7 separate regions of the Homo sapiens genome follow, and regions 1, 2, 3, 4, 6 and 7 are each reported to be linked to region 5. The links are microRNA targets in miRTarBase. Many come from high-throughput screens and were not tested one by one. Region 5 holds a microRNA gene; each other region holds the end of a gene's coding sequence.
Evidence for each region. The annotated mature microRNA hsa-miR-6504-3p reads CAUUACAGCACAGCCAUUCU and lies in region 5 at 1,291-1,310, opposite strand. An mRNA with a match to its seed (bases 2 to 7 or 8) in the 3' UTR can be bound and repressed. Matches are read on the target gene's strand: a 7mer-m8 pairs with bases 2 to 8, a 7mer-A1 pairs with bases 2 to 7 and ends in A, and an 8mer does both.

Region 1: miRTarBase lists FAM227A as a target of hsa-miR-6504-3p. Seed matches in the 3' UTR shown: 7mer-m8 at 3,042-3,048, 7mer-m8 at 2,726-2,732, 7mer-m8 at 2,593-2,599, 7mer-m8 at 1,106-1,112 and 7mer-m8 at 115-121.
Region 2: the mRNA of TNFAIP8L1 is a reported target of hsa-miR-6504-3p. Seed matches in the 3' UTR shown: 7mer-m8 at 985-991, 7mer-m8 at 1,436-1,442 and 7mer-A1 at 2,554-2,560.
Region 3: the mRNA of LSM3 is a reported target of hsa-miR-6504-3p. Seed matches in the 3' UTR shown: 7mer-m8 at 3,195-3,201.
Region 4: miRTarBase lists STYX as a target of hsa-miR-6504-3p. Seed matches in the 3' UTR shown: 7mer-A1 at 1,429-1,435 and 7mer-m8 at 1,244-1,250.
Region 6: miRTarBase lists EXOC8 as a target of hsa-miR-6504-3p. Seed matches in the 3' UTR shown: 7mer-A1 at 1,819-1,825 and 7mer-A1 at 3,328-3,334.
Region 7: miRTarBase lists SFXN5 as a target of hsa-miR-6504-3p. Seed matches in the 3' UTR shown: 7mer-A1 at 3,198-3,204.

What each region holds. Positions count from the first base shown.
Region 1 is chr22:38,582,341-38,586,471 of GRCh38, forward strand. It overlaps FAM227A (family with sequence similarity 227 member A), which reads right to left. Exons shown (of 17, transcript NM_001013647.2): 17 at 1-3,859. The coding sequence ends at 3,785. Among named protein-coding and RNA genes, the nearest start is that of DMC1, 14 kb to the left of the region's middle. RefSeq lists an enhancer at 677-726 and a silencer at 3,271-3,471.
Region 2 is chr19:4,652,062-4,656,192 of GRCh38, forward strand. TNFAIP8L1 (TNF alpha induced protein 8 like 1) reads left to right here. Exons shown (of 2, transcript NM_152362.3): 2 at 1-3,507. The coding sequence ends at 369. Among named protein-coding and RNA genes, the nearest start is that of TNFAIP8L1, 15 kb to the left of the region's middle. RefSeq lists a silencer at 2,671-2,720.
Region 3 is chr3:14,197,669-14,201,799 of GRCh38, reverse strand. LSM3 (LSM3 homolog, U6 small nuclear RNA and mRNA degradation associated) reads right to left here. Exons shown (of 4, transcript NM_014463.3): 4 at 678-3,764. The coding sequence ends at 3,684. Among named protein-coding and RNA genes, the nearest start is that of LSM3, 21 kb to the right of the region's middle.
Region 4 is chr14:52,770,330-52,774,460 of GRCh38, reverse strand. STYX (serine/threonine/tyrosine interacting protein) reads right to left here. Exons shown (of 11, transcript NM_145251.4): 11 at 1-3,428. The coding sequence ends at 3,355. Among named protein-coding and RNA genes, the nearest start is that of GNPNAT1, 19 kb to the left of the region's middle.
Region 5 is chr16:81,608,566-81,612,696 of GRCh38, reverse strand. It overlaps MIR6504 (microRNA 6504), which reads right to left and starts at 1,349; the gene lies at 1,289-1,349. All of the region lies in intron 2 of CMIP (c-Maf inducing protein), which reads right to left. RefSeq lists an enhancer at 3,906-4,131.
Region 6 is chr1:231,332,360-231,336,473 of GRCh38, reverse strand. EXOC8 (exocyst complex component 8) reads left to right here. Exons shown (of 1, transcript NM_175876.5): 1 at 1-3,721. The coding sequence ends at 906. Among named protein-coding and RNA genes, the nearest start is that of EXOC8, 3.4 kb to the left of the region's middle.
Region 7 is chr2:72,941,278-72,945,277 of GRCh38, reverse strand. It overlaps SFXN5 (sideroflexin 5), which reads left to right. Exons shown (of 14, transcript NM_144579.3): 14 at 179-3,242. The coding sequence ends at 256. Among named protein-coding and RNA genes, the nearest start is that of EMX1, 26 kb to the right of the region's middle. RefSeq lists an enhancer at 2,421-3,409.

The sequences.
Region 1 (4,131 bases), not on the chromosome of region 5:
CTTCTAGTTTAACATCTGAATTTATCTTCTTCCATGCTGAGAGTATGGGTTTTCAGCAACACTGGGAATGACAGAATTAGAATATCATACAATTACTCATTTGCTTTATCCCACATTACAGCAAATGCTTTTTAAATGTTAGTTCCCTTTGATGCTCTACCCCGCTTCCCTTATAAAGGGCAAATAATTCTTCCCCATAATTTTCCCTTCTAATGTTTACAAAGGGCAGAGACAGGTTTCTTCATATTTAACATCCTGAGAGGCTACAACTCTGAGTCCTCAGTCATTTCTGGAAAGGGTCCATGCAGGGATGATCTTGGACTGTGCAACAAATGGTCCTGACAGACAGAAATGCAGTTTGTCCTGGGCTTAGAAAATAAGGAGACCTTCTTGCTGTATGGGGGCTAATAGTAGCGGTGGATAGGTAGACAGGCAATTCCAATCTACTATGGTAACTGCTGCCATAATGGGATGGCACAGAATGCTGTTGGAGCATAATGCAGTGGAGCACTTGTGCCTACCTTGCTCCTGGTATATTAGGGAAGGCTCCCAAGATGAGGGACGTCTAAGCGGGGTCCTGGAGGAAGAGCAGGAATTAGTGATGTTGGCAGTTAACAAAGAGGAGGGAGGAGAAGGCATTTTCAGGTCCAGAAGCAGCAACAGACAAAAGATCCAGAAATAGGAAAGTGTGGTTCCTAGAGAAACTGCAAATGAAGAGTTGACAGTGGCTGGGGTAGTAAAGGGAAGGTGAGAGAGTGTTCTGCTTATCTGCCCCACATGGTGCCTTGTACTCGGCAGGTGCTCACACGTTCTGGTTTCAGAAGACTATACTTTTTTTTTTTTTTTTTTGAGATGGAGTTTCACTCTTGTTACCCAGGCTGGAGTGCAATGGTGCAATCTCAGCTCACTGCATCCTCCACCTCCCGGGTTCAAGTGATTCTCCTGCCTCAGCCTCCTGAGTAGCTGAGGTTACAGGCACCTGCCATTGTGCCCGGCTAATTTTTTTGTATTTTTAGTAGAGATGGAGTTTCGCCACGTTGGCCAGGCTGGTCTCAAACTCCTGACCTCAGGCGATCCACCTGCCTTGGCCTCCCAAAGTGCTGGGATTACAGGCATGAGCCACTGCACCCGGCCAAGAAGAGTACACTTTATAACAGCAATAACAACAATAACAGCTTGTGGCAATTACAAAGTGAAAAGTACTGTGCCAAGAACTTTGCACAAATTATCTCATCTAATCCTCACAACAACCCTCCTAGGCAGGCATTCCCTTTCTGCAGTCAAGAAAGCACGTTCAGAAAGGTCAAGATGCACAGCTACTATGCTGAGTCACACATCCATATGGTGAAGCAGGGCAGGGATTCAAAGGCCCAAATTTTCTCATGCCAAAGCCTAAGCTCCTTCTCTCTTACCTTTCCTTCATCCCCTTTTACATGAGTAATAGCCTCCAAGGGGGTCACCTAGAGTTCTACTCAGGATTCAAGTAAAGATGTGTGTCTGAGGGATGAGCTACATTTCCCAAGATCTGCTTATCTGCTGCTTGGTTTGGGCAAACAGCCATCTGCACCATTTCTTTCCTCTTGGCTGTGACAGGTGAACTGTTCTAGCACAGACCAGGTCACTGCCTTGTGCCTTGAAGCTCAAATGATAAAACCTATGCCCTTCAGCCCAGCTGCTGGTCCTTTGGCAAACCAACCCCTGTGCCTGTGCCCCTCAGTGAAATATCTTCTGTCCCAAAGGGCTGCTGGCACACTGGCTTCATCTGCCTTGGTTTTTCTCAGATTCCACGCAGCTTTCTATCGGAGCATTAATGCATTTATTGGTTTACACATCCTTCTCTTTTTTCCAGATTGTGAGCCCCATAAGGTCAGGGACTGTGTCTTTATTTATCTCTGTATTCACAGGGCCTAGTGCAGGGATGGTACAGAATAGACATCTAGCAAATACCTAATCATCCCCCCCAAGTCCGTTTCTTCCTAGGAGAAAATGGAGGTAACAATATCCATCTTGGGGGACACCAGGAAGGTTAACTGAGATAATGTCTAAACCAGACTTAGCAGAGCACTCAGCACATACTAAGTACTCAATAAATGACATCACCTATGATTACTATTATTATGTTATACAATATTAGATACTCCAGGCCAGGTGTGGTGGCTCACACTTAGAATCCCAGTGCTTTGGAAGGACAAGGCAGGAGGATTACTTGAAGCCAGGAGTTCGAGACCAGCCTGGGCAACACAGTGAGATCCCATCTCTACAAAAAAATTTCTTTAAAAATTAGCCAGACATGGTGGCATACCTGTAGTCCTAGCTACTTGGGAGGCTGAGGTGGGAGGATTGCTTCAGCCCAGGAATTTGAGGTTGCAGTGAGCTATGACTGCGCCACTGCATTCCAGCCTGGACAACAGACTGAGAGTCTGCCTCTAAAAAATTTAATTTAGTTAAAATTAATTAAAAAAAATTTTTTTTTGAGACAGAGTTTCGCTCTTGTTGCCCAGGCTGGAGTGCAATAGCATGGTCTTGGCTCACTGCAACCTCCGCCACCTGGGTTCCAACGATTCTTCTGCCTCAGCCTCCCGAGTAGCTGGGATTACAGGTGCCCGCCACAACATCCAGCTAATTTTTGTATTTTTAGTAGAGATGGGGTTTCACCATGTTGGCCAGGATGGTCTCGAACTCCTGACCTCGTGATCTGCCCACTTCAGCCTCCCAAAGTGCTGGGATTACAGGTGTGAGCCACCACGCCTGGCCTAATTTAAAATTTTTTAATTAAAAAAATTAATTTACATTTAAATCCTGACTTTTGCTATGGTAGGAATGAACTTTACTATTCCTTGTCTCATGAACTGGGAGTGACTAAATGTGTCCCTAGTTGCAGTATTATTTTTTGTTTTCTTATTTCTATTTTAGATTAAATCAGACAACATGTGCATGCTTTACCTATAAAGTTTCTCTCAATTCTTGGACAAAGATTCACTCAAATGAGCTGGAAGGTGAGAGGTTAAGAAGGCAGAAGCCTGGGAGTCACACAGAAACACATTACAGATGTCATGTCCCTGGGCTGAGTTTAGAAAAGACAAGATGTTTGCCAGGCAGAAAGAGGGCATATTGGAAATAGGCTGGCAATCCCAGTGGTTAGAGGAGCAGGAGGCAAAGGTTCAGAGGCAGCATAATAGAAGCGCCTATCAAATTATCAAATTAATAGTTCCACAAAGCTTGTTACAAAAAATTGCACTCCTCTAGGCCCATTTTCCTTTTCCCTCACAACACTTTTCTCTTTTTCCTCTGTCCAATACTTACAGCATTTAATGTGTTGATACATCTGTCTTCCCTCTACCAGATGGTGACTCCCTTGAGAACAGGGACTGTGTCTTATCTACTGTTAATTACCCAGTGTCTACAGCAGAGAACTTCGGAAACCTTTCTAAACCTGGGCTTGCTGCTGCGTAAAATGCAGTGGATAATCCCTACTTCATACGGCTGGTATGAAAGTTTTACCTTTGTATGAGGTCATATTTGTAACATACTTACCAGCATGCACGTAATAAAATACTGAAAGAGTAAATCTATGAATAAATGTAGTGACCCAAGCACCAACTCTCTACTCCTGCTTTTCACTCAGCCTAGGAAAAACTACAACGGAATCCTTCCCCTATGGAGAAATCATGATTCCTATTTCTGTCTTTGGCCACAATTTTCTTATTTTCTTGTTCCACTCCACCTCGTAGCAGAAATATCACGGATTCTGTAGGCGCTTCCTGGTTCTAGGTTGTGGAGCTCCTCAGGGCTTGGAAGTGAGTGGAAAGAAATGTTCAACTTCTGTTTCTCTTCTCTTTCCCTCTCCTCCTTTCCCCTCCTGTGGGGGAAACAAACGAACAAAAACAAAAATTAATTTAAAAAATGTAATTTCTTCAAAGACTTTGCACGTGAGCAGTGGCGTGGCCAGTGGTGATCCTTGTGTGCATGGAATATTGAGGGCGTGCTCCTGCCTCCAGAGAAAGTGGTCGAGCAGGACAGCTGGCATCCACGGCTTCCACATCCCCAGTGCCTCCATCCTTCATCTTTCACCAGTACTGACAGGAACACTGCTGTGTCGGATCTGAACTGGGCCCCAAAAACCTCTAGGTA
Region 2 (4,131 bases), not on the chromosome of region 5:
AAGGTGGCCCTGAAGCTGGGACTGCTGCTGCGTGGGGACCAGCTGGGCGGTGAGGAGCTGGCGCTGCTGCGGCGCTTCCGCCACCGGGCGCGCTGCCTGGCCATGACGGCCGTCAGCTTCCACCAGGTGGACTTCACCTTCGACCGGCGCGTGCTGGCCGCCGGGCTGCTCGAGTGCCGCGACCTGCTGCACCAGGCCGTGGGTCCCCACCTGACCGCCAAGTCCCACGGCCGCATCAACCACGTGTTCGGCCACCTAGCCGACTGCGACTTCCTGGCTGCGCTCTACGGCCCCGCCGAGCCCTACCGCTCCCACCTGCGCAGGATCTGCGAGGGCCTGGGCCGGATGCTGGACGAGGGCAGCCTCTGAACCCCGGCGCCGCCCAACCGCGCCCCTCGCGCCTTTTGGGGCTCTCCTGCTGGGCGCGGGTGGGGTTTGTGGGTTTTTTTCCACCTCTTTTCTCCCAATCGGACTCCGGCCAAACTCCCCTAGACAGATGGGTGACCTGTCTCCTTTGAGAGGATGCTGAGGCATCTGTAGCAGCTGTTTCAAACACCAATGTCACCTCTCCTCCTGGCCCCCGCCCAATGGGGAGAGGAATTTGGGGCCCTACTCTGGGGACCACCTTTCACCCGTTTGTACTTTCTGGGCCACGCCGACCCCTGGGTCGCTTGATGTAAAAGCCAAAAGCTGCTGCCTCCCACTTGGATCATGTCGCCTGGGATTTTCATCCCTCGCACAAGGACTACGGGTTCACACGGTGAACTGGGGGAAGGGAAGTGTTAGGGGGCAAGTCGCGGCACCCCCCCTTCCATAAACTCACGTCCTAACCCCCAGGACCTCAGAAGATGATCTGATTTGGAAATAGGATCATTACAGATGGAATTAGTTCAGATGATCTCATCTTGGAGTAGGGTGGGCCCCAATTCAAGGACTGGGGTCCTTAAAAAAAGGGGGCCTGGGGCAGGGCGCGGTGGCTCACGCCTGTAATCCCAGCACTTTGAGAGGCTGAGGCGGGCGGATCACGAGGTCAGGAGATCGAGACCATCCTGGCTAACACGGTGAAACCCCATCTCTACTGAAAATACAAAAAATTAGCTGGGCATGGTGGCACATGCCTGTAGTCCCAGCTACTCGGGAGGCTGAGGCAGGATAATCACTTGAACCAGGAGGAGGAGGTTGCAGTGAGCCGAGATTGTGCCACTGCACTCCAGCCTGGGTGACAGAGCAAGACTCTGTCTCAAAAAAAGAAGCGGGGGAGTGGGGGATTGAGGCCACGTGCAGTGGCTCACTACTCTAATTCCAGCACTTTGGGAGGCCGAGGCAGGAAGATTGCTTGAACTCAGAAGTTCAAGACCAGTCTGGGCAACATGGTGAGACCCTCGTCTCTACAAAAAAAAAATTATCGTGGTGGGCCGGGCGTGGTGGCTCACACCTGTAATCCCAGCACTTTGGGAGGCTGAGGCGGGCAGATCACAAGGTCAAGAGATCGAGACCATCCTGGCCAACATGGTGAAACCCCGTCTCTACTAAAAATACAAAAATTAGCCGGGCATGGTGTTGCGTGCCTGTAGTCCCAGCTACTTGGGAGGCTGAGGCAGGAGAATCGCTTGAACCTGGGAGGCGCAGGTTGCAGGGAGGCGGAGGTTGCAGTGAGCCGAGATTGCACCACTGCACTTCAGCCTGGTGACAGAGCGAGACTCGTCTCAAAAAAAAAAAAAAAAAAAAAAAAAAAAGTGACTGTGGTGGTGCACACGTATAATCCCAGCTACTTGAGAGATGACGAGGGAAGATCACTTGAGCCCAGGAGTTAAGAGGCTGCAGTGACCGATGATCATGCCACTGCACTCCAGCTTGGGTGAGAGTGGGACTCTGTCTTAGAAAGAAAAAAAAAAGTATTTGGACACAGACATGCATGCAAGGAAGGCCAATGATGCCGGCCACCACCAGGAGCTGGGAGAGGCCCAGGGCAGATCCCCTTCAGCCTTGGAGGGACCTAGCCCTGGCCACACCTTCATCTCAGACTTGCGGCCCAGAGAACTGAATGAGAATAAATGTGCGTGAAGCCCCTCAGTCCACAGGATGTGGTACTGGAAGCCCCCACTCAAGAAGGCTCCAGTGAATGCTGGCACGTTCAGCCAGGATGCCTCCGTGAAGCTGGAGACCTCTGCCCTGGGTCGGGAGGGGAAACTGCTCCAATCCAGGGACTGCCACATGGGAGGGGACGGAGCGTGCCCACCTCCCAGGGGTGAGGGGGGACCCACCTGAGATGTGTGCACATTTTATTTATTTATTGTTTTGAGACAAAGTCTCGCTGTGTCACCCAGGCTGGAGTGCAGTGGTGAAATCTCGGCTCATTGCAGCCCCTTCCTTCCAGGCTCAAGTGATCCTCCCACCTCAGCCCCGGGTAGCTGGGACTACAGGTGTGCACGAGCACACCCGGCTAATCTTTGTATTTTTTGTAGACAGAAGGTCTCACCATGTTGCCCAGGATGGTCTCGAACTCCTGGGCTCAAGCGACCTACCTACCTCGGCCTCACAAAGTGTGCACATTGTAATATCGTGATTTCATATTTGGAGAATCAGCAACCAACCAGCCAACCATGTTGCTTTTATAAGACAGAGCTGAGAAAGCAAAGCTTGGCTGTCGTCTTGGCTCTGGTACCACCCACGAGATGCGGGCGATTCTCAGCTCAGGGCGTGGAGGCGTGGTGTGGGGGAGTCTATTTGCCATTTTTGTTTGTCAGCAGGGGGCAGGGGTTCTCAAAGATTGCAAAATGCTGCTGCAGGTCAGGAAGGTTATTTTGGGTGCCTGTGGGGGAGGTGAAACAAGGTCCCATGACTGTTTTGCAGAACCTTGTCTGTGGAGGGTAGAGGTTGCGGCAGGGGCCTGTGGGCCTTACTTGGTGAGAAGGTAGGTCTAGCTGGCTCCATTCAGTATTTGAGACATTTGGAATTTGTCTGCATTTAAAACCAAGAGATCACACACACCTGTCTGGATTTGGAGTTTCTCTTGAAAACTCGCCAGTCCGGCCGTCTGAGCCTGCACTGACGCCTGGTGAAGCTGTGCAGGGGCCGCCCCTCTCCCTTTCACCACAGTCCTCTCCACTCCCTTTCGCCTCTCCCTGGCCTGCTGCACTCACTGATAGGAAATTCTGACCCCAGACTCGGAGCAGCCTTCCCGTGGTTCGGTTTTTGCTTCCGCGAAAAAGCCAAAGGCCTTGGCCAGAGAGCCAGCTGTTCCTACCTCTACCCCACGCTTCCAAGGCAACCTTCTCCACTTATCTTAGGCCGAGAGACAGCTCTTCAAGAACGTACATGGATCCTGATTTTCTCACGAAGTCCCGATGGAACCCTGTGCTGTTGAGACATCAGTGTGTAAAACTCTCTGTGTCCCTGTTGGGCTGTCCAGACAGTCTGGACTCTTGTAAATTTGAGATTTAATTAAAGGAAACAAACCAAATAGGACTGCGGAACAATTTAAATAAAAGCACACACCAGCCTGGGCGCAGTGGCTCATGTCAGTTAAACCTAGTGCTTTGGGAGGCCGAGGCAGGAGGATCACTTGAGCCAAGGAGTTCAAGACCACCCTGGGCAACATAGCGAGACCCTATCTCTAAAAATATATATATATAAGGCCAAGTGCAGTGGCTCACGCCTGTCATCCCAGCACTTTGGGAGGCTGAGGCAGGCAGATCACCTGAGGTCAGGAGTTCAAGACCAGCCTGGCCAAGATGGTGAGACCCCATCTGTACTAAAAAGTACAAAAATTAGCTGGGCATGGCGGCGGGTGCCTGTAATCCCAGCTACTTGGGAGGCTGAGGCAGGAGAATCACTTGAACCTGGGAGGCGGAGGTTGCAGTGAGATGAGATCGTGCCACTGCATTCCAGCCTGGGCAACAGAGTGAGACTTGGTCTCAGAAACAGAATAAAAAAATAAAAAATTATAGCCAGTCAGGGTGGCATGCACATGTGGTCCCAGCTATCTGGAAGGATGGCTTGGACCCAGGAGGTTGAGGCTGCGGTGAGCCGAGATCGCACCACTGCACTCCAGCCTGGGTGATGGAGCAAGATCCTGTCCAAAAAAAAAAAAAAAAAGCACACATATGCACACGTAAGGTCAGAGGGGAA
Region 3 (4,131 bases), not on the chromosome of region 5:
TGTTCTTCAGTCCACTCTGTTCAACTACCCTGCCCTCCCCAGAAGCTCTGAGGACCCCCTGATACCTACCCCCAGCTTAACAGCCCTCTTGTGTTGCAGATCTCCTACCTAGACCCCTCAAGAGGACTCGGGCTACCATCAGGCCCAGTCAGCCAACAAATCTGAGCTCCACCCATACTGATCCCCACACAGGTTGCTCCAGAACCTCCTGGATTCCAGAGCAATAGCTTAAAGTCATAGTGTCAGTCTGAGGTGTGTTCCAAGAAATTTGTTACTAATAGGAAAGTACCAAAGGGATTTTTCTATAAGTTGGGGCAGACTAAAAGTTTTCCTGTGTAATAGGCATTGTGTCCAGCTCCATTTCCCCTTTCCTCTGGTTTCCTTCAGAGAACGACCCCTCCTTCTGCACTTAGACCATACAGCTCAGGTGGGGATAACCTTGCTCTTAGTTCCAGAAATGGGCGTGTGACTGAGGCCTGGCCAATCAGAGCCCCACATTCTCATGGCCGTAAAAACCAGCCCACAGATGGGCACAGGGACCAAGCAAGGAGGATGAGACCACTTTAGCTGGAGGGCAGGTAGGCTGGAAGTCTGCATCTGCTACAGGGAAGAGCTTGCCCACGAATGAAATCCATGTAGTTCAGCAGAGCTGAGTGACAGAGAAACATCAACTGTGCTTCTTGATCTAGCCAGGATGACTCCTGGAACTTTTATTAATTTTCTACATTGAACACAGCTGAGCATTACTCACATCTGACATCTGTTCAAACAATAACATTTCTCCCCTCCTGGCAGCAGGCTAAAAGCAATATGGGTAATAGCTAAGTATTATTTGAGACAGGGTCTTGTTATGTTGCTCAGGCTGATCTCGAACTCCTGGGCTCAAGTAATCCTCCCGCCTCAGTCTCCTTAGTGGTTGAGTTTACAGGTGTGTGTCACCGCACCCACTTTAGCTGATTAAATAAAAGGGTGTGTGAAACCACTTTCTGCCTCTTAGTGTGAAGAGGGATAGTACTCTAGTTTGGGCAAATCTTCAAAAATCACTATTTGAAATTTGAAAATCGTCCATTTGCAGCTAATGATTAAGTTTAACTTGGGATACTCAAGTTACTTTTCATTTTGGGCACATTTCATCTCAAAGATGTGGTCCCATATTTTGTCCATTTTTCTTTGTGGGAGGCAATGGCAATTCATATCGGCCTCTCATAAAACAACCAAGACCGGGATCCAGGCATGATACTTGCTGAAGAGGCTTCCCTTAGGCTAATCTGACACCTCATTGCAGAAACCACCAGTCACCAGCTCCACTGACCACCTGCCATCCAGCTGGCTGGAGCCGAGTGCTCTGCAGACTCAGAAGTCCAAGGCGTGGCTCCCAGGGGCCCTCACACCATAACCCCTCAGTGGACAGCACCACTGCAGAGGAAACCTCAGTGTGGACCATGGCAGGGCCCTGCTTGAGCTGTCTCTGTTGTGGATTGAGTCCCAGCTCCAAAAGGACTCACACATTGCCTCCCCTCCCTCCATTTCCTGACACATAGGTGGCTATTCTGCAGTTAACCTTTTATTGTCCCTCCCCTTGTATCTTAGCAGCTAGGAAATGAAGTAGGTTGGTATGTTTTAGTTGTGTGTGCATATGAGAGTAACAGTGTCAGATATTAAGGTTCATGGGTTTTAGAAATGTGTATAATCAAGTCCTCACAGCCAAAAGTTTTAGTGTAAACTATCAGTTCCAGGAGAAAAAGGAGAAAGATAACTAAGAATGAAGAGAAGAAAGTGTCCAGGAATTCAGTGTGACTATCAGAAACCACTAAAAATGAATGCAGTGCTGGGGAGAACTGCAGACTGGCAGAGCGAGGCCAGATGGCCTGTCACCCCACGCCTTAGTGAACACCAGGAGCCAACAGACTGCCCAGAGCCAGGGCCTTGGTACCACACCCACACCACAGGCTCACACAGGTAGGAGGCAGGCAGGTTCAATCTTGCTGCCACATACTAATGACCACAGGCGGCCTGAGGTCTTTGAGGTTGTTTCTTCTAACATTCTGCAGGAGGGAGTTCATTTTTCAATACTGAATGGGCTGCTGTAAACAGGTTATCTCCTGGGACCACTACAGCTTAAGGACAAAGCGTGGGGATGGCACAAGTGAAGGGAGGGTGTCTCTCCTGCCTCCTCACCTAAGATGAAGCCTCCATCAGCTCACCCACACTTGTTTTTCTCTTCTCCATGAACTTGCAGGGGCATGTACCATTAGTAAGGAAAATAAAACCTTTTAAATATGTTTACTGAAAGCATCTTTCTTGCACAAGGCTTAAAGTACTGTGCATTTGTGAGCATATCGTGCTTGATAATGAACACGCACACACATTCAGCTCATTTACAGACAAACCATCCACAAGTTGGATTTTCTACATTTCAAAATGGAATGACCATAGCGGAGGATGTCAGGTTCTAAGCCCTGTCTTGATAAAGTTTGAGAGATTGTAACACGCTTTTACTTTCCTCTTTAGGTTTTAAGCATTATGTGCTGACTGAAGCTAGAAATAAAAACAGCTTTGCTTTCAGCCAATTTCTGCTTTACTGTGTCACTGAGACATGTTGTTTGAGACCCCTCATCATTAATGGCCAATGATCCAAGAGTGGAAAAATGGTCTGAGTCATAATTATAAACAGGTTATGATCAAGCTGAACGTCTGACCTTAGAATTAAATCAGGCCAGAGAAAAGAGAAATCATGCTTTGCTCTGTCTTCTACTGCAGGGTTGATGTTTACAATGTCCCTCTGCCCCTTTCTCCCATATTTGGGTGCTCTTCCCCATGCTCCTATGGCATCCTGCATGTGCATGATTCTATCAGCACTAATCTTACTGCCTGCAATTGTTGGTTTAAACATCTGCCTCCCCAGAAGACTTGAGGGCAGAAAACTTTTTTTTTTTTTTTTTTGACACGGAGTCTCGCTCTGTTGACCAGGTTGAAGTGCAATGGTGTGATCTTGGCTCACTGCAACCTCTGCCTCCTGGGTTCAAGCGTCTACTGCCTCAGCCTCCTGAGTAGCTGGGATTACAAGTATGCGCCACCACGCCTGGCTAATTTTTATATTTTCAGTAGAGAAAGGGTTTCACCATGTTGGCCAGGCTGGTCTCAAACGCCTGACCTCAGGTGATCCACCCACCTTGGCCTCCCAAAGTGCTGGGATTACAGGCATGAGCCACCATGTCTGGCCCAGAAAGCATTTTGATAAAACTCTGGTTCCCAGCACTCAAACCTGGTGCCTCAAACACAGTAGGTGCACTGCAAATGTGTGCTAAGTGAAGGTAAGACATGCTTACTTTAAATAATTCACAAGACAGAAGACCGCACTTAAAAAAATCTACAAGGAAACACCAATTTAAAGAAAAGAAAAATCAGTAAGTATCTGTGAGAATAATGGAGCAAAAGAAGTCCTGAAAGAGTTCTGCATCTTGGTGGTCATATTTATTGGAGAGCTTGAGAAAAATGAAAATACCATTTAGCTTAAGAAGTTGTGAGTTATCTGCAAATCAACTCATTTCAGGAGTGGAAGAATCCCCGGAATTATTTCTTAATATCAAAATGTATGCAGGTTTCTCTTATGAATGTTTTGTACTTTTAGAGAGGCCACTGTACAAAGTCTCCCGTTTTCCATACAGGACAAATTCTTTGTTTCAGCCAACTCTCAGTGGAGGGGCAACCAGGACAACGCCATCTCCCCGGACAAAGAGCATTGGAATATTCCGTTTCGTTGACTAGAAGAGAAAAAAAAACAGAACATATTTGTACAACTGTGTATTACTGCTTATTGTTTGTGACAGAAATGTTAAAAAATGGATTCATCATGACACAAAAAAATTGGATTAAAAAACCTGATCACTTCCCTTGGTAGCACCAAGAACCAATCCATCAACTGCTTCCTTTCGACAATTGTGGCAGAGACTGGAGCTACCCATTAAAACTCACTCTTCTCCTCCTGGGCACACAGCTGGACTATGTTTCTTATTCTTCCTTGCAACCAGATGTAGCCATCGGATTGCTTTAACCAATGGCAAGTAAACAGAAATGACAGGACTATATCCAGACTGACCCAGAATGCCCCTCTGCAGTCGTTCCTCTAAC
Region 4 (4,131 bases), not on the chromosome of region 5:
GAGGTGAAGCTATGTTTGTTATGGGATTATGGATTAAATCAGTTATTTAAAAAAAAAAAAATCCGCCAGGTAACTGCTCATTTACTTTACATCAAGTTGAGATCTTGATACATATATATATATATCTCAACTTTATAATTCAAGATTGCAGTTAAATATTTCTAATTCACTTGAATTACCATATTAATAAGACAATTAGAAACCTTATATTTTCTTAATACAGACATGCTTAACATTTTCTGACATTACTTCTAAACTCAGATGAAGCATAAACTCTCCCCAAAACTGCTCTAAAAGTTAAGTGGTTGAGTTGGTAGCAAAAGCTATCATGGTTTAACATTTCCACCACAGAGTAGATACAAGTAAAGGTCACTGCAGTTTAAACATCTAACAGGTAAGAAATTAACATGAACCAACTAACTGAAATTAGAATACTGCCATTCCATGTTTGAATATTTTCAATACTCAAGTTTCATATTTTCAAAATGGACAGTAATACAGTTTCCCTATGTTTTGATACAATTTCACTATAAATTATGGGCCCAGATTACACTTTTAATGTTGGAATTGGGTGGTCACTCATACATTATTTAAATACTCTAGAAGATAAATCATGATCAGTTAAATTTATCATAGTTAACTATCACAAAACATCAGTGGTAATAAAAGAATCACAGAAATGGAATCAAATAGAATAAAGAATAGGAAGAGCTACCAGAACTACTTAAACATTAGGTGGACAGACATGCAAGAAAAAACAAACCTGTAATGTTCTTATATGAAATAATAAACTTCATGGTTTGTCTACATTAATATTGTACTCAGCCAGGCGCAGTGGCTCACGCCTGTAATCCCAGCACTTTGGGAGGCCGAGGTGGGTGGATCACTTGAGGTCAGGAGTTTGAGACCAGCCTGGCCAACATGGTGAAACCCCATCTCTACTAAAACTACAAAAATTAGCCAGGCATGGTGGCATGTGCCTCTAACCCCAGCTACTTGGGAGGCTGAGGCAGGAAAATCACTTGAACCCAGGAGGTGGAGGTTGCAGTGAGCCAAGATTGTGCCACTGTACTCCAGCCTGGGTGACATTAGAGACTCTGTCTCAAAAAAAAAAAAAAATCTATCTATCTATATATATATATATACACACAGAGTACTCAAGATGATGACAGTCCCTTTTCCCAGTGTTTGTGAGAGACTGTAATATACAGTACTGGGCAGGCACTTCAGTGACAACATAAAAATTACAGTGGATAGAAAATGTGGAAAATTACCAGCTACAAATTATCAATAACAAAATCTGTTCTTTTGGCCAGACTACTAGAGAGGATATATGTATATTTATGAAACAAGTTTTTAAAACCTAAACTTACTATTATGAAGATTCTTTTAAGCAGAGTTTCTGCTAAATGAAGCATCATAGATTATTATTACACTGTAAGAGATCTTTGCTGACCTGCCCAATAGTGATCTATATACAGGAAAGCTGTGTTATCTGGAACTTTTATCAACTGGAATTTTAGAAAACCCAATGCGAATCTTGACTCCACTAGACCACTGTACATCAAAAGACCTAATCACAAAGCAGAATACTGGACGACAACGAGATTAACAATATGCTGTTTTCACAGTGGTAAGATAAGAGAAGGGAAGGGGAGGGAAATCAGAAGAGAAATATCACCTGGGTCAATAGGAATTAACTCTTAATTAACAATTTTAATTAATCTCCACTCTCCCACTATGCTGGGTAAGAAAGCTTTTACTGTATTATCACATCATAGAGAGGAAAGCAAAGCAAGTAACTTGGTGTAATAGGTTACTTTGCATAGTACCTCTTGGTACCAAGGGAACATACAGAAATCATTCCCATTAGTAAAGCACCTCAAGAGAGGATTGAGAAAAGTTAGATACAAAGGAGTTTTGTTTGTGCTACCCTAAAGTCATCAACTATAAAAAGTTAAAAACACTCCTCTCTTCCCTTACATACTTAAAATAGCAAAAATGTTTTCTTAGAACTTTTATACACACAAACTAAAACATAGCCAAAAATCCATAAAGTGACTTTACTAAAGCAAATTATGGGGCAGATCTGGACTAACTGAATGTCAAGAATGGATTAAAATGCTAATTTAAAATACACTAGTCTCCCACAAATCACCTTCCCCAAAGAAAAGCTTCTGTTTGAGCCGGAACAATCTCACAGAATCATTAAGACAACATAAAAAGAAAGAGTAAACATTCTATATTCCAAATAATTTACTAATATTTCTTCCAGCCTCGTACTTTCAGTTTAAACTAATTTATGGTTTAAAAAGAAAGGAAATTACACAAAAATGTTAAGAACTTTTCAGTGTTCTACATACTAATTTAGAGGCCATGAGGATTTAATTATTTTTTTTAAATGATGCAAGGCACTTTTCTTTTTTGGGGCTTCATTTAGAAAAAAATAATGCTACATTGGTTTATTAGATTCTATTTAGAATCATTTTGGACAAAGGAAAAAAGGGCTGGACAACTCTGAAAAGAACAAATACAACGTTTGGCTTTTACTGCCAAAAAATGCAAAAAGGAAAGTCACTCGAAAATCTAACACTATCCTTGTGTTTAAGCACTTGGTACTATAAATCAAAACGTTTTCCTTTTATCATGGAAACTGTAGTTTTTAAAATATAGAAAAATTAGGAAAGTAATAAGAAAGGAAGCAATAATTAGATCAAGTTAAAGTAAGGACAGCTAATTAGGATCATGATTTAAAGATTAATAATGGAAGAAGTATAAAAAATAAAATGGTAATTAAGCTATTAAGTTATACTAAAAAAGAAATGTGGCAGATTCCTGCATTTTGTTAATGTTTCTGTAAGAGGCTCCATCATAAAATTGAACTGTAAAATTATGTTAAAAATGTAATATATAGAACAGAAAAATGAATTTTTAGCAAACCTTAGCAAATTTTGTTATAAATTACCCAAACTTTATAAACAATCCCCCCATACTTGCATTTTGTTTAAAGTAATAACTTTATATCATACAAATAAATTTCAAGTATGAAAAGTGCATTATTGCAATAATACCTCTTTGCAAGTCCAAAATTCTTGGTTTATAATAAAACTTGTAAAGCATGTGTGTGTGCGCGCGCATGTGTTTTTAAAAAAAGGAGTAAAACCATCAGTGTCATCTATTGCAGAAGTCCAACATCTTAAAATGTTGCTCAACAAGTTGCAGAGAAGTATGTCTGGAAGCAACATGTAATTGAAAAAAAAACTACTTATGTTTTTACCATTTTACATTATAATTTTCTCTTGTATTTTCTCCTTCCCAAATAGAAATTCACACTCTATGATGTTGCTCTTCAAGTCAGCCATTCTGTGCAGTCGCCACTTGCATGGTTCCAAAATCATCCTCTTCTTCATGTGTTCTCTTCAAACTGCCTAAAAGTTATTGCATGAAGATTAAAAGGGCACTAAAATAAATTCATGTTAAAAGGTTACAGCAAGTAAAATTTTGTTATTAAGTGATCATGTATACACTATGAAAATTCCACAACTGATATAGCAAAATTTAGTAAATTCCTTTGTGATAAATTACCTAAATATTATAACTTTTTAATCTTCATGACAGGATATATTTTCCTTCTCAAGTATTATGTCTTAGGTATTGCATATAAAATAAATAATTTTTGAAATAGTGTGAAAATAGACCTTTTCAAGAGATAATACATAAATGTTTAGTTATCAAGTTAATTGTTTTTTAGGCACCATAAACATGTGACTTAGGGCATAAAATTTAGGAAATTAATCTTGTATTTGTATAATTTTTTGTAGATAATCTTTTTGCTTTCACAGAGGCTGTTATGAAGAGCAGCTGAAAATATTTTTCCACTCAAGCTATCGAAGTCTAGGTTGGGAGAAAGGAAGGCATGTAGCATATAAAGAGATTTTCTTTTATCTATTCTTCATACCAGCATCTGCTAGTACAGAAATCTCCCACATAGAATCAAAGCTATCTCTGTATCCCCAAAAGTTATAATCAAGAAATTAGACTCTCAATGGAGGAAAACTTTAGGGAACAGTTAAACCAGCAGAGGGTCTGCTGTGTTTTTTGCCTAACAATGGCATGACCTTAAACTTATGC
Region 5 (4,131 bases):
GGCCTGGTTCCAGGCAAACGCTGCCCAATTTCCTCTCCCAAACTTGCCAAGTTCTTTCTCATTGTTGCATTGTCTTGAGAGGTGAGAAAAACAGCCCAGGGTGCGCTGTGAGCGACCTTTTCCAAGCTCCCCTTCCCCGGCCCAGTTTCTTAGGGAAAAGGAGCTTCCTTTCTTACTGGAAGCTAGAGAGTGAGACCTTTCTGGTGCTTTCCAGACCGGAAAAGTCCTGCTTGCTACCTTCCAGTAAGAAAGGAACCCACCCCGTCCCTGCCCTGCTGCCAATGTTTGGGGTAAACAGTTGCCCCGCCTCCTGCAGGACTTTCCAGAACATTGGTGAGAAGAGCCGAGTCCCGGAACCCATCCCCGAAAGAAGCAGACACTCTTGGGAGGAGGGTCTCCCTGCTCTTATCTTGCCTGAAGCCTTGTTTGTGGAGCAGCGGCTCTGTCTAATTTTTGCTGATGGGCAGCCACTCAATTTTTAGGCAGAATCCCCCAGAAGATGATCTGCGCCGCGCTGCTCTTTAATGCCTGCTACCCCATCCCAGGGGCCAGTGACAGCACCTTCAGGACGTTTTCATGACACTGTCTATGTACTTACATGCTTGGCCTCCCCACAATGAAATGCTAGCAGAAAGGGCATCAATGGAGGAAATGGGATAAACAGGCCCTTTCTGCAACGAGGGATTCTAATAACATGGCAGTGAGGGAGCTCACGCTGAAAACACAAAGCATCCAAAACACACCAACTGGACCCACGCTGGAAGGCTGGGCGCCTCTGTCTGCCAACTCAACCTGCTGGTAGATTGCTCTGTCTCTGAGCTGGGGATGAGGGGCATGGGCCTGAATGTCCTCTCTGCCTTCCTTGAAGGATCAGGTCAGCTCCCCGAGGTCTGCAAGAGGCATTGATTCAAATTCTAACAAAGTAAGAGTTTTACAAAGAGCTCCTTAGAAGACAGAGAGAGCGGAGGAGGAGGAAGAGAAGAGGGGAGAGACACACAGAGAGGACTGGGGGACAGGCTCAGAGGTGGTGAGAGGCCTGGAGGAAGGACCTGCAAGAGAAGCCCAGAGTGAGCCACAGCAAGGACTAAAGAGAGAGAAAGAGGAGAGGCAGGAGGGGACAGAAGGGGAAGGAGGGGAGAGAGATGGAGAAAAGGCATGAGAGAGAGGAAAACAGACACACATGGATGCAAAGAACCTGAAAGAGACAGAGATGGAGAGAGATCAGGCAGGCTGGGGTAGGGAAGGGGCACTAGCCCTCTTTGGGCCCCGCCATTCCCCTTGTCTGTAGAGAGAATGGCTGTGCTGTAATGCAGCAGGGTGCAGACTGCATTACAGCACAGCCAGACTGCAAGATCGAAGAGCCCCCTGTGATCTGACGTGATTCGCCCCAGGAGGGGCTCAGGTGCCTGCAGTATGAGGTCAAAATGAAAAGGCCTCGAGGTCAGCACTGCTCCACAGAACTTCGTGTGTCAATGGAAATGTTCTTTATGTGCGCTGTCCAACACAGCAGCCTTTGGCCATGTGTGGCCCCTGGCCACTGGAGGTGTAGCTAACGGGACTGAGGAACTGTGTTATTAATTTGATGAGTAAATTAAATCCATCTGTGGGCTGCCATGCGTGGCTGCTGGTGGCTGTGCCGGGCGGCACCATTTAAGGCACTTTCACTCATCTGCTGACTAGGAGCACTAAGGTAATGCCGTTCAGATGGGCACCTGGCTGTTTCTTGGTCCCCTCTCCCACCCTGGAGCAGGGAAGATCTGTCCCCAGGGCCAAAGGGGTTGTTCTCTGTGACACCACGGCTCTGGGATCTAATACAGTATGTTGTATGTGAATCAAGACAAAGTACAGCCTCTCAAAGCAGAGGGTCCTGCCACCCGTCACAAAAGGCACGTGAATACAACCAGGACTGAAGAAAGCCCTGAGTACCACACCAGGGGCCAAGTGCACCCCGCCCCAGCCTCCCTAGAACCACACAGACTCGCTAGCCCTGTTTATAGAATGAGCCAGCTACATACCACCCATGCATCACGGTGGGCAGAGTGTGGGGGTGAGGATGAGAGGGAAGCAAGGGAGAAGCCGATCCAGGTCTACCTCCCCTGACGGAAATGGCAGCCAGGGAGAGAACCACAGCCGCCAGGGGCAGGGGCTGCACCCACCTGGGTTCCCCTTGGGGGAAGGGTTGGGAGGCCGTGTCTGCTGCTCCCTCATTAGCTCGGAGTCCGGCTCTGGATCTGAGGAGTTGCAAGCCGCCTCCTCCTCCTCCTTTTCCTCTGCTTCCTCCTCTCCTGCTCCTGCCTCTGACTGCGCTGTCCACGGGATCAGGGGGCAGTGAGCAAGTGGGATGCTGGAGCAGCTAGAGGCTCCCCGCCCGCTCGGCTCCTCAGCACCACGGCGGCAGCTCTGTCCTGAAGCCCTGCCAGACACGGCGGCCAGGCGAGTCATCACAGCTGGGCCCGCGGCCACAGCCGGGTTAAAGGGACATTCCAGGCACTGCTTCTCTGCTTTTCAGCCTCACTGCCCCTCCATCCCTGTGGCGAGTGATGCTCTGGCCTCCTTTGGAGGCCAGGGCTGCCCCTCCAGCCCCAGAAGGAATGAGGCCCCTTTGCTGGTGGAGCAGGAAAGTGGAGGCTCAGGGCCTCCTCTCCTCCAACTGGAATGTTTCAAGGGGCTCCCTCCTGCCTCTCTGTCATGCACAGATCTAGGCCCCTCTGCCCTGCCACCACACTGATTCCTCTAGTGTCCCTCTACCCCTTCAGAGCTTTCAGTGGCTGCCTATTGCCTTTGGAAGAGGGTCTGAGGCTTCTTCACTTGGCTGGCAAGGCCTGGGTGATCTGGCCATCGCCCAACAGATCTAGACATATCCACAGCCCCAAACTCCATCTCTCCATCTCCTCCAGCTGCAGCAAGTACCCAGGTCCCCCATATTCAGGCTTTGCACACACATCCCCTCTGCCCGGGGAGTGTGCCCCCACCCCACCATTCTGGCACACTTCTACTCATCCCTCTACACCCAGTTCAAATGCCCCCTGTCTGGGGAGCCTGCTTTGGCCCCCCAGGCCAAATAAGTTCCTCCTTCTCTGGGCTCCCAGTCCTCCACGGTTGCCTCTAATTTAGCCATTATTTCCGTAATCATTTGTTTATGGCTCTGTCTCCCCAGGGGCTGAGGGGCTCTTCACGCATGGGGCCTCCCCGAGCACAGGGGAGAGGCTGCCTCAAAGCTCTGTGACTACAGCAAAGTCATTGGGGTAGGACAATCTCTGGCTACCCTACCTCTCCGTTGGCCACTGAACCCTGTGATTGCCCGCCCCATCTCCCCCGCCGAGGGGGGCTGGCACTGACCACCCCCTTCATGGACTCTGTGCTGCAGCCATCGGATGGGCAAGAAGGAGCGAGTGAAGAGGCAGAGGAGCTGGCAGAAGTGTCTGGCAGGAGGGTGACACTGACCTCTATCATAAAGATGAGAGGAGAGAAAGAAAGAAGAGGAAGGCTTTGCTGGCTGTGGTGGGGAGGGGGGGAGGGACAGTGTGGGGGTGTGGGGACAGGGTTAAAAGAAAAGCGTAGAGGGCAGAGTGTGAGAGATTCACTAAGAAGAAAGCAGACTGGGGCAGGCGTGGTTTCCAGAGTCCTCTGAGAGATGACAGTAAGAAACAGGACATTTCTAACAATGCTAAGTTGTTACGCTCCGCTACTGAGCTCAGCATTCCTTGGAGCCCAGACTGGGTGACTCTCAGCCCAATGCTGTTACACAATCCAGTGGCTGCTAGATCTAAAATAGGTTTTTAGAAAGCATCTCTTTGGGCTAAGAGAAGGTTTCCCTGGAAAAACAAGTTAGGAATAAAATGATCCCAAAAGAAAAAGCAAGGCAGGTCTTCTTCCCACTGATAAGAGAGTAAATTTTCTCTAGATGAGGGGTTTCAGACTCGGGGTTCCTTCTGAAAATTGGCTGGCTCCCCTGACATGATGTAACATGTCTTATGTATGTGTGACCGTGGTCGTGGTTTTTGTCAGTCACTTCTCCATTCTTGGTGGACGCACCTCACCGCCTCTGTGTGGTCCTGGTGGGGCTACCAATCCGAGACCTGGGCCTTGCCTGAGGTCAAGGGTGGGCGGGTAATCCGGGGGAGTGAATTC
Region 6 (4,114 bases), not on the chromosome of region 5:
ACGAAGGCCTGTGAGCTATTTTTGAGAAACAGGGCAGCCGCTGTTCATACTGCAATTCGTCAGCTTCGCATCGAAGGTGCCACTTTACTCTATATTCATAAGCTGTGCCATGTCTTCTTTACCAGCCTTCTCGAGACTGCAAGAGAATTTGAGATCGATTTTGCAGGCACTGACAGCGGCTGCTACTCTGCCTTTGTGGTCTGGGCAAGATCAGCCATGGGCATGTTCGTGGATGCTTTTAGCAAGCAGGTGTTTGATAGTAAGGAGAGCCTCTCTACAGCAGCTGAGTGTGTAAAAGTGGCTAAGGAGCATTGCCAGCAACTGGGTGATATCGGACTGGATCTCACCTTCATCATCCATGCCCTTCTGGTGAAAGACATCCAAGGGGCCTTGCACAGTTACAAAGAAATCATCATTGAAGCCACTAAACATCGCAACTCTGAAGAGATGTGGAGGAGGATGAACTTGATGACGCCAGAAGCCCTGGGTAAGCTCAAAGAAGAGATGAAAAGTTGTGGGGTAAGTAACTTTGAGCAGTACACAGGGGATGACTGCTGGGTGAACCTAAGTTACACAGTGGTTGCTTTCACCAAACAGACCATGGGCTTCTTGGAAGAGGCCCTGAAGCTGTATTTCCCAGAGCTGCACATGGTACTTTTGGAGAGCCTGGTGGAAATCATTTTGGTTGCTGTTCAGCATGTGGATTATAGTCTTCGATGTGAGCAGGATCCAGAGAAGAAAGCTTTTATCAGACAGAATGCATCCTTTTTATATGAAACAGTCCTCCCTGTGGTGGAGAAAAGGTTTGAAGAAGGTGTGGGGAAACCTGCCAAGCAACTCCAAGATCTGAGGAATGCATCTAGACTTATTCGTGTGAATCCTGAAAGTACAACATCAGTGGTCTAATGCTTGGGTCTGTTTATATGTGTATATATGCAGAGAGAGAGCTTATATATTATTTATATTTATATTAAGTTGTATTAGCATACTCTATAGTTTCAAACACAACTTGAAAATTAAAAGTGCCCTCTTAAAAATACAAAAATCAAAAAGAGGAAAATAAGTTAAATTAAGCCCAAGTAACAAAAATACTGGAATTATTAAAACGTATAGTATGCTAGCTATCCTTTTAAATTATGCTAATTCTCTTCTTCTGAAATTATGGTCACACTATATACTATAGCATTTCGGTTTTATCCTTTGATAAAACTTTTCTTTTTTCTTTTTTTTTTTTGAGACAGGGTCTCACCCCGTCGCACAGGCTGGAGTGCAGTGGCAAAGTCTCGACTCACTGCAGCCTTGACCTCCCGGGCCCAGGTAGTCCTCCCACCTCAGCCTCCCATGTAGCAGGAACCACAGGCAGGCACCACCATACCCAGCTAATTTTTGTATTTTTTGTAGAGATGGGGTTTCGCCATGTTGCCCAGGCTAGTCTTTTCTTTCTTCTTTTTTTTTTTCCCCACAGTATATATTATACAGCAGTCATAATATCTATAAATACATAGAGTTTATGTTGTGAAGTTTCCCAGTTCACTGAAATGTTAGGTTTCCTAAAGGGTACAGTGCCGTATAAAACAACCTGCCTCATATATTTCTCCTCAAAACGTTGGACTATTTGGGAAAAGGAAAAGAGTTGGGAAAATTGGTTTTAAGGTAAGTTTTAGTCAAAAGAATTCTTTCTTGAAACTAGCTGGTTTGTGGATTCAGATACTCTGATCCTTACAGAATCCAAGAGGAAGCTTTCATAAAAACAATTCAGCAAATATTTCCAATATAATTTGAATGGCTAATTTTCAGTTGCTAATTAATTAGCAGCTTTGTAATACTTGATTTGGGAGCATTTACTTGGAAATCCTAAGGACTATAATAAAAGTTTTCAACATATTTCTAAATTGTGTGAGTTTCCAGCTGTAGCTTTTGTCTTTGTCACATTTTAAAAAATAATAAGCAAGACACATTGGGGACACTGGCAGCAGTTGCCAGGTTTTAGCTGCCACCGCTTCAGTATGAGATATAGCTGTCCCATCTTCCCCCATTCAGGGTAGGAGATATAGTGACCCAGACTTCATGCAAATGGAAAAAAAGTTTTAACTGAAATATTTATTTAGATTTCAGGGTCTAGATGGATGGGAAAGTAGAAAAACATATGCAAATCTCAGTGTTCTCACTATGACCACTCTGAGCAGAGATTTGGTTTTGTTTCCTTTTGTAACAAAGTGAAAACAGGTGAGACAATGTGCCCAAAACAAAGGGAAGAAGAGAACCTTCTGTGACTCCTAAAATGTTCCATGCTGCATTTTTGTTTCATTTTTTATTTTTCCTTGCTTTGTTTTTAAACATGAATATAATGCTTACTTCAAATTGTTTAGTAAAACAAAATAACTAAAGAAATGTGAGCTTCCCAAGGTTTCTAAACTATCGCTGTTGTATATTCTATAGCGTTCCTTATTCTTTGAGGGAAACTGTGCTTGCTGTGATCCATTTTGTCTCTAGCTTCTAGTTGTGATTCTTGTCCATAAGCACCAAATTTGATGCCCATGATTTCAAAAGGTCATTTCTTTTATCTGAATGAAAATGGTGGTACTAAGACTGTGAAAATTATGTGAAACCTAAAGTAGTTGCCAAAGTGGCTCAGGGTTGTAAAATTCATTGACTTAATTATTCATGTGCCAGATCAACCCCTTTATTTTCTCTTTAGCTGTGCATATTTAAAATATTGGAAAGTATCAGATTTACAGATTTTCTTTGACTAATTTTTTTCACATAACTTTAGGATTTTCGAAAGTTGTAACCATAACTGGATATCTTAGCTGAGCAAAGGCGGTTATAATTTGTCTTTTTAAGATCACTGGAAATTGATAAAATTTTGTGATAATTATGATTATTCTGTGCCATTTACAGTTTCTAATACTATACTGTATGAAATATGTATAAATATATGATGCTGAGTCTGTGGAATGATACTTCTGAAATCAAAATTCCTCATAAGGCATGAAGTTGTAAAAACTTGAATGTGTATAGTTAGATATTTAAATGGTTGCTTCTTCATAGAATTGTCTGCTTTTTAAAACTGGAAGTACAGGATTTTCTTCAGGTAAAATCTGTGTGTTCCAATTACAGTTGTAGCTGAAGGAAGTATGCTTTGGTGAGTCAATTAGTATGGGAACTTGACTAAAGACCCCCAGTGTTGTAACGTACCTTTGTACCCAGACAAAACAATTATGTTACATTCCTCAAAGTGGCATGGGCTTTCTTCTCTAATTCTTCTGTTTTATTAGACCCAAGACAAGTTCTAAAAATTGAATGCAATGAGAGATTGTCCAGAAATGTAATATATACTAAAATATACCACTTAAGCATTGATTGCCTTTTCTTGTTTGCTTCAAGAATATAAAACTTGTTACTTGAGCTTGGAATCATGGGCTTGATTGAATTAATTACTCTTGGGGAAAAAAGACACCTTGTGGCATTAAGTCTTGCTTTGGTTAAAGCCTTATTTCACATAATTGCTAAAAACTCATTTTTGTTTAATATACTACCTATAGTTTAATTATCGGCACTTGTATTTTGTAACTTGATATCTTACCTAGGATTGGGAATTTGGGACATGACATGTACTATAAAAGTCAGTCTATGTACATACTGCTTATTGATGTGCTGTGATATGAGGGAATCTGAAATGTTTCATAAAAATAAAGCTTAAAAATTGTCTTACACTGGATAAAAGTGATATTAAGATATTATATCTATTGCTCTTCTTTAGTTGGTATTCAATATTTTTATATTCTTGTTACTGAAATATTCTTTGAAGACCCTAGTTTTTTGTTTTATTTATGTGGGGAGGATACTTAGGAAGCTGTTTGCTAAATTAAGTAAGTGTTCTGCTTACCGTCAGAATTGTGAATAAATCAGATCTCAATTTTTTAAAATTCCCTCGAATGGAAAATTTCAGAGGTACAAAATGTGAATTTATTATAAAAAAGTAGATTTTATACCATCTGCACATCTCTAAATAAAGAAAATAAAATGTAGGCCACAAGACCTAGGAACTAAATGACAAGGCTTGGCCTTTTTTTTTTTTTTTGAGACAGAGTCTTCCCATATCGCCCAAGCT
Region 7 (4,000 bases), not on the chromosome of region 5:
GAGGGCGGTGGAGAAGGAAGATGTGTCACTAGGTAGGGCATGTGAGCCCTGGCTGGGGTGGACACGGGGGTGCAGGGGGCAGAGCTCTGGGGCCCAGGGTGGTCCTCACTGCAGCTCCCAGCCCCACTATTTGCCCCTTCCCACTCCCCCACTTTTCCTCTCTGTTCTCTCTCCACAGATTGAAACATCCCAATTAGAGCCGGAGATAGCCCAGGCCACGAGCAGCCGGACAGTGGTGTACAACAAGGGGTTGTGAGTGTGGTCAGCGGCCTGGGGACGGAGCACTGTGCAGCCGGGGAGCTGAGGGGCAGGGCCGTAGACTCACGGCTGCACCTGCAGGGAGCAGCACGCCAACCCCAGCAGTCCTGGGCCCCCTGGGAGAGTGCTCAACCTACAGTGGAGGGAGACTGACCCATTCACATTTTAACATAGGCAAGAGGAGTTCTAACACATTTCGTACAAAAAAATAATCAAGTGCATTTCTGGGCCTTATGTGGGGTTGTCAAAACTCCACTCAGCACAATTATGTGTGAAGCTGAAAAATTGTAGAGTGCCCATGGGGTAGAAGTAGAATCCTTTTATACTTTGGTTCCTTTTTTATTTTTATTTTTTATCAGAATCAAATCTGAGCCTTAGTTTCAGCTGACCAGAAGTGGCAGGAGGACAGGTGGAGGCGAGCCAGATTAGGCCTGGAGTTGGGCTGGTTTGGTGGCCAGGCTGGTAAATTTAGGATATTACAATGGCCAGCCCAGATGGCTCCCTGGGCTGGCATGGGGAGGGGAGAGAAGGTGGTCTGCACCCCACAGGATGAACTAGCCATGACTAGGGTCCTCAGGCAGTGGCCCAGGGAATCAGGGAGCACTGGAGGCCTCTGCAAGATTCTGTGGGCAGCTGGCTCTGAATGTAGCCAGCCCACATCCATTCCAGAGCTGCAGAACCAGTCCCTCTGAGTGAAGTCCAGTGACCCTGGAGCTAGGGTCCCCCTTCGTGGAGCTCTAACTGATTCAGGGCCCCTGAAGTGACCCCAGCTCCAGGCAGGAAACCCCGAGAAGGAATGGTGCTTGGCAGGAACCATGGACCTGCACTTGGCCTCTTCGGGAAGATCCTCCTTCCAGGCCCCAGGCTGGATGCTGGGTTCTGGGGCTGAGAGTGGGGCTAGACTGGGCTGGCTGCCTTCTGCGGAGCTTCTCCAGCCACCAAGGCTGCCTGCCCCATCCCATCCCTTTCTAAGCAGGAAGGTCTCATGCCTGAGAATGCCTAGGCCAGCTCCTTAGACACCTATCAGAGAAGCAGCATCAACCTAGGAGCAGTGGGCCCTGGCTCTGTCACTAAATGGCAGTGAGATGTCAGACAAATTCATTCCCTTCTCTCAGCCTCCACTCCCTGTCTGAAACCAGAAGACTGGATCAAGGGGTTCCCACTGGCTCCTCCAGCAAGACCTCGTCTTTGCTTGTCCTGCTCAGATGCTGGTCATCCTGGGCATGTCCCCAGTGTGGACTCTGGACTGGGAAGGGGGCAGGCCCCTTTGGACCTGCAGTTGGCCTCAGCAGAAGGCCTTGCCTTGTGTATGTGACTCCATATCCCGGGAGCAGTTGACCTTTGCCAAACACTTTACAGTTCTGGAGGAGGAGGTAACATAGATGCCTGGGCCTGATGGTGGGGCCATACCCATGTGTCGCCTCTCACTCTGGCAGCCTCAGAGGCCCCTTGCTGCTGGCTCCCATCTCCCTCCCATTTGCAGACCAGGAAGGAAGAGCAAGCTGTACAAAGGGAAGCAGAGCCTGGGGTGGGTGTGAGCAGGGTGACCCCTCATCTGAAAGGCCCAAACCAGGGGGAAGCACCAGCCTCAGTGCAGCCCCCTCCTGACCCCACCTAGAATGGAAGCCTCCACCTGCAGCCCCAGGCCTCCCTCCCCCGGGGTCTCCACCTCAGGGGAGACTTAGGCCAGAGGTGAACATTCATGTGTAGGAAGAGGCCGCTGCAGGGTGGCATCTTAGGGTAGGGGAAGTGTGCTGAGGTGGGCCTTCCATGGGCATGGCCGTTGCCTCTCTGCCAGCCGCTGGTGCCCACCAGCTGGCTCTGCAGCACATTGCCCTGAGGGGCCTGCCACTCTCCTGAGGAGCAGCCCACCTGCTGCCCGTGAGGAGGGGGAGAAGGGTTAGACAAGCCTGGAGGACAAAACAGCGGGAGTGTGGGGGTGCCATGGTGTTGGAGGGGCAGGCCTTTTTGAGCCAATCCCACCATAATGTGAATATGCCAGTGACTGCTGCGCTGTGCTGGTCTCTAGGCCTGAACTAGGTGCTGGCATGTCTGGGTCGTCTTTTGAAAAGCTCACTTCAAGCTCACCCTGCTCCTACCTATCATAAGGTCTTATTCTTGTGCACTTTATCTTGGGACCAAAACTGCCTACCCACCCCTTCCCGCCCTCCCCCTGCCAGAGGCCTGGTGCCCTGGCCCAGCCTGTGGCCTCAGCATCTCATAACTCATTTGCTTTGTCTCCCGGATGATTTCCGTCATGCTCCCAAATGCAGCTTCAGGTGAGCCAAGGGGTCTGCTCCTGTGGCGGTGCAGTGGCAAAGGATCCAGATAGCCTAGGGTGAGGGTGACAGAGGGACAGTGGGCTATGCCACTAGGCCCTGGTCTGGCTTTGGAAAGACCTGTGAGGGGAAACCTTCACCCAGCACCCATGCCCCACTCTGCTGAGGCCAGAGGAAGGGAGGCCTGAGGGGCAGATTGGTTCATGCCTGGGGTGGAGGCTAAGCCTGGACACAGTCAGGGCGGGGCTGGCCAGCTGTGCGAGAACACAAGCCACGCCTGCGATGGTGCTGCACCCCTGGTGTCCCTGCCTGGCCCTCCTCTGGTCACTTCAAACATGCCCTCAGGCTTGGGGATGCCCTTCTTCCATTCCCAGACAGCAGTGTGAGGGTGCAGGGACCAAGATGTCAAGCTGGCCGTGGAGTCGAGCTGGCCGACGGACCCCTTTCACCTGGTTATGAGCCGACTTCTTTGGTGTTCTGGCCTCTGGCCTGGGAAAAGGGCAGGAGCCTAGAGGAGGAAAAAGGCTGGTGGACAGACCCAGGGTGGTCTTCAAGCCTGGCCCAGTGAGAGTGAGGCCCCCGCACGCAAGCCTCAGCCACTCCCAGGGGCCTTTGCAGCGTCTTTTTAACCTCAGAAAATTTCTCAATCTATGTGATTTGTGTAATACTAATGAGCTTTGGGCAATAAATACGGGATTTAAAGCATCAGGGTGTGGTTTTGTGAATTGTGGGTGGGAAGGGGAGTGGCGTATGGAACCCAGTGGGAAAAGGGAAGGACTGCCTGAGGATTTTGTGGGAATACCTCCAGGGAAGGTGCAGACCTAGGTTCCAGGCTGGATCGGGCCAGCTGGGAGGCCCAGAGGGAAGGGGAGAGGAAAGGATGGAGACCATGTGAGGACACAGGGCAGTGAAATTCTGCAGGACTCCCCTTACAGAGCTGTTATTGAGCGCTCACTAAGGAGCCCGCCCTCAAGGAACGTGAGTAAGACTTTTGGTAGATTCCCATACTGTTTATATCCATGAGGCTGGGAGGCCGGAGGGGGTCATTTCTGGACCACCTGGGGCCAGGAGAGGCCTCCTAGGGAGGGAAGGTTTGAGCCAAGTGGAAAGGTGCTTCATGGCTGCAGTGTGCATGGTACCAGCCCTGAGATCTCTGCCTCTTCTTAACTCCTCCACTATCCCTTGGGGCTAGGACTTGGGCATCTCCTGATAGCAATGGTTCCTCCTCTTCCAGGCAGCCCCCAGAGTTCCCAAGTCCAGCCCTGCAGAGAAGCGGGCAGGGAGGTGGAAAGCCATCCTGGCTGGGGTCAGATAGACCCCAGTTCCAGCCGCAGCTTGGCCCAGCATGACTGGGGCTTCTAGCCAGATGCTTCCTCTATTCACCCATCAATTGGGTCAGACATTTATTGACACCTACTCTAACTGAGCCTTGGTGACCTTATCTATAAAATGCCACGAACAGC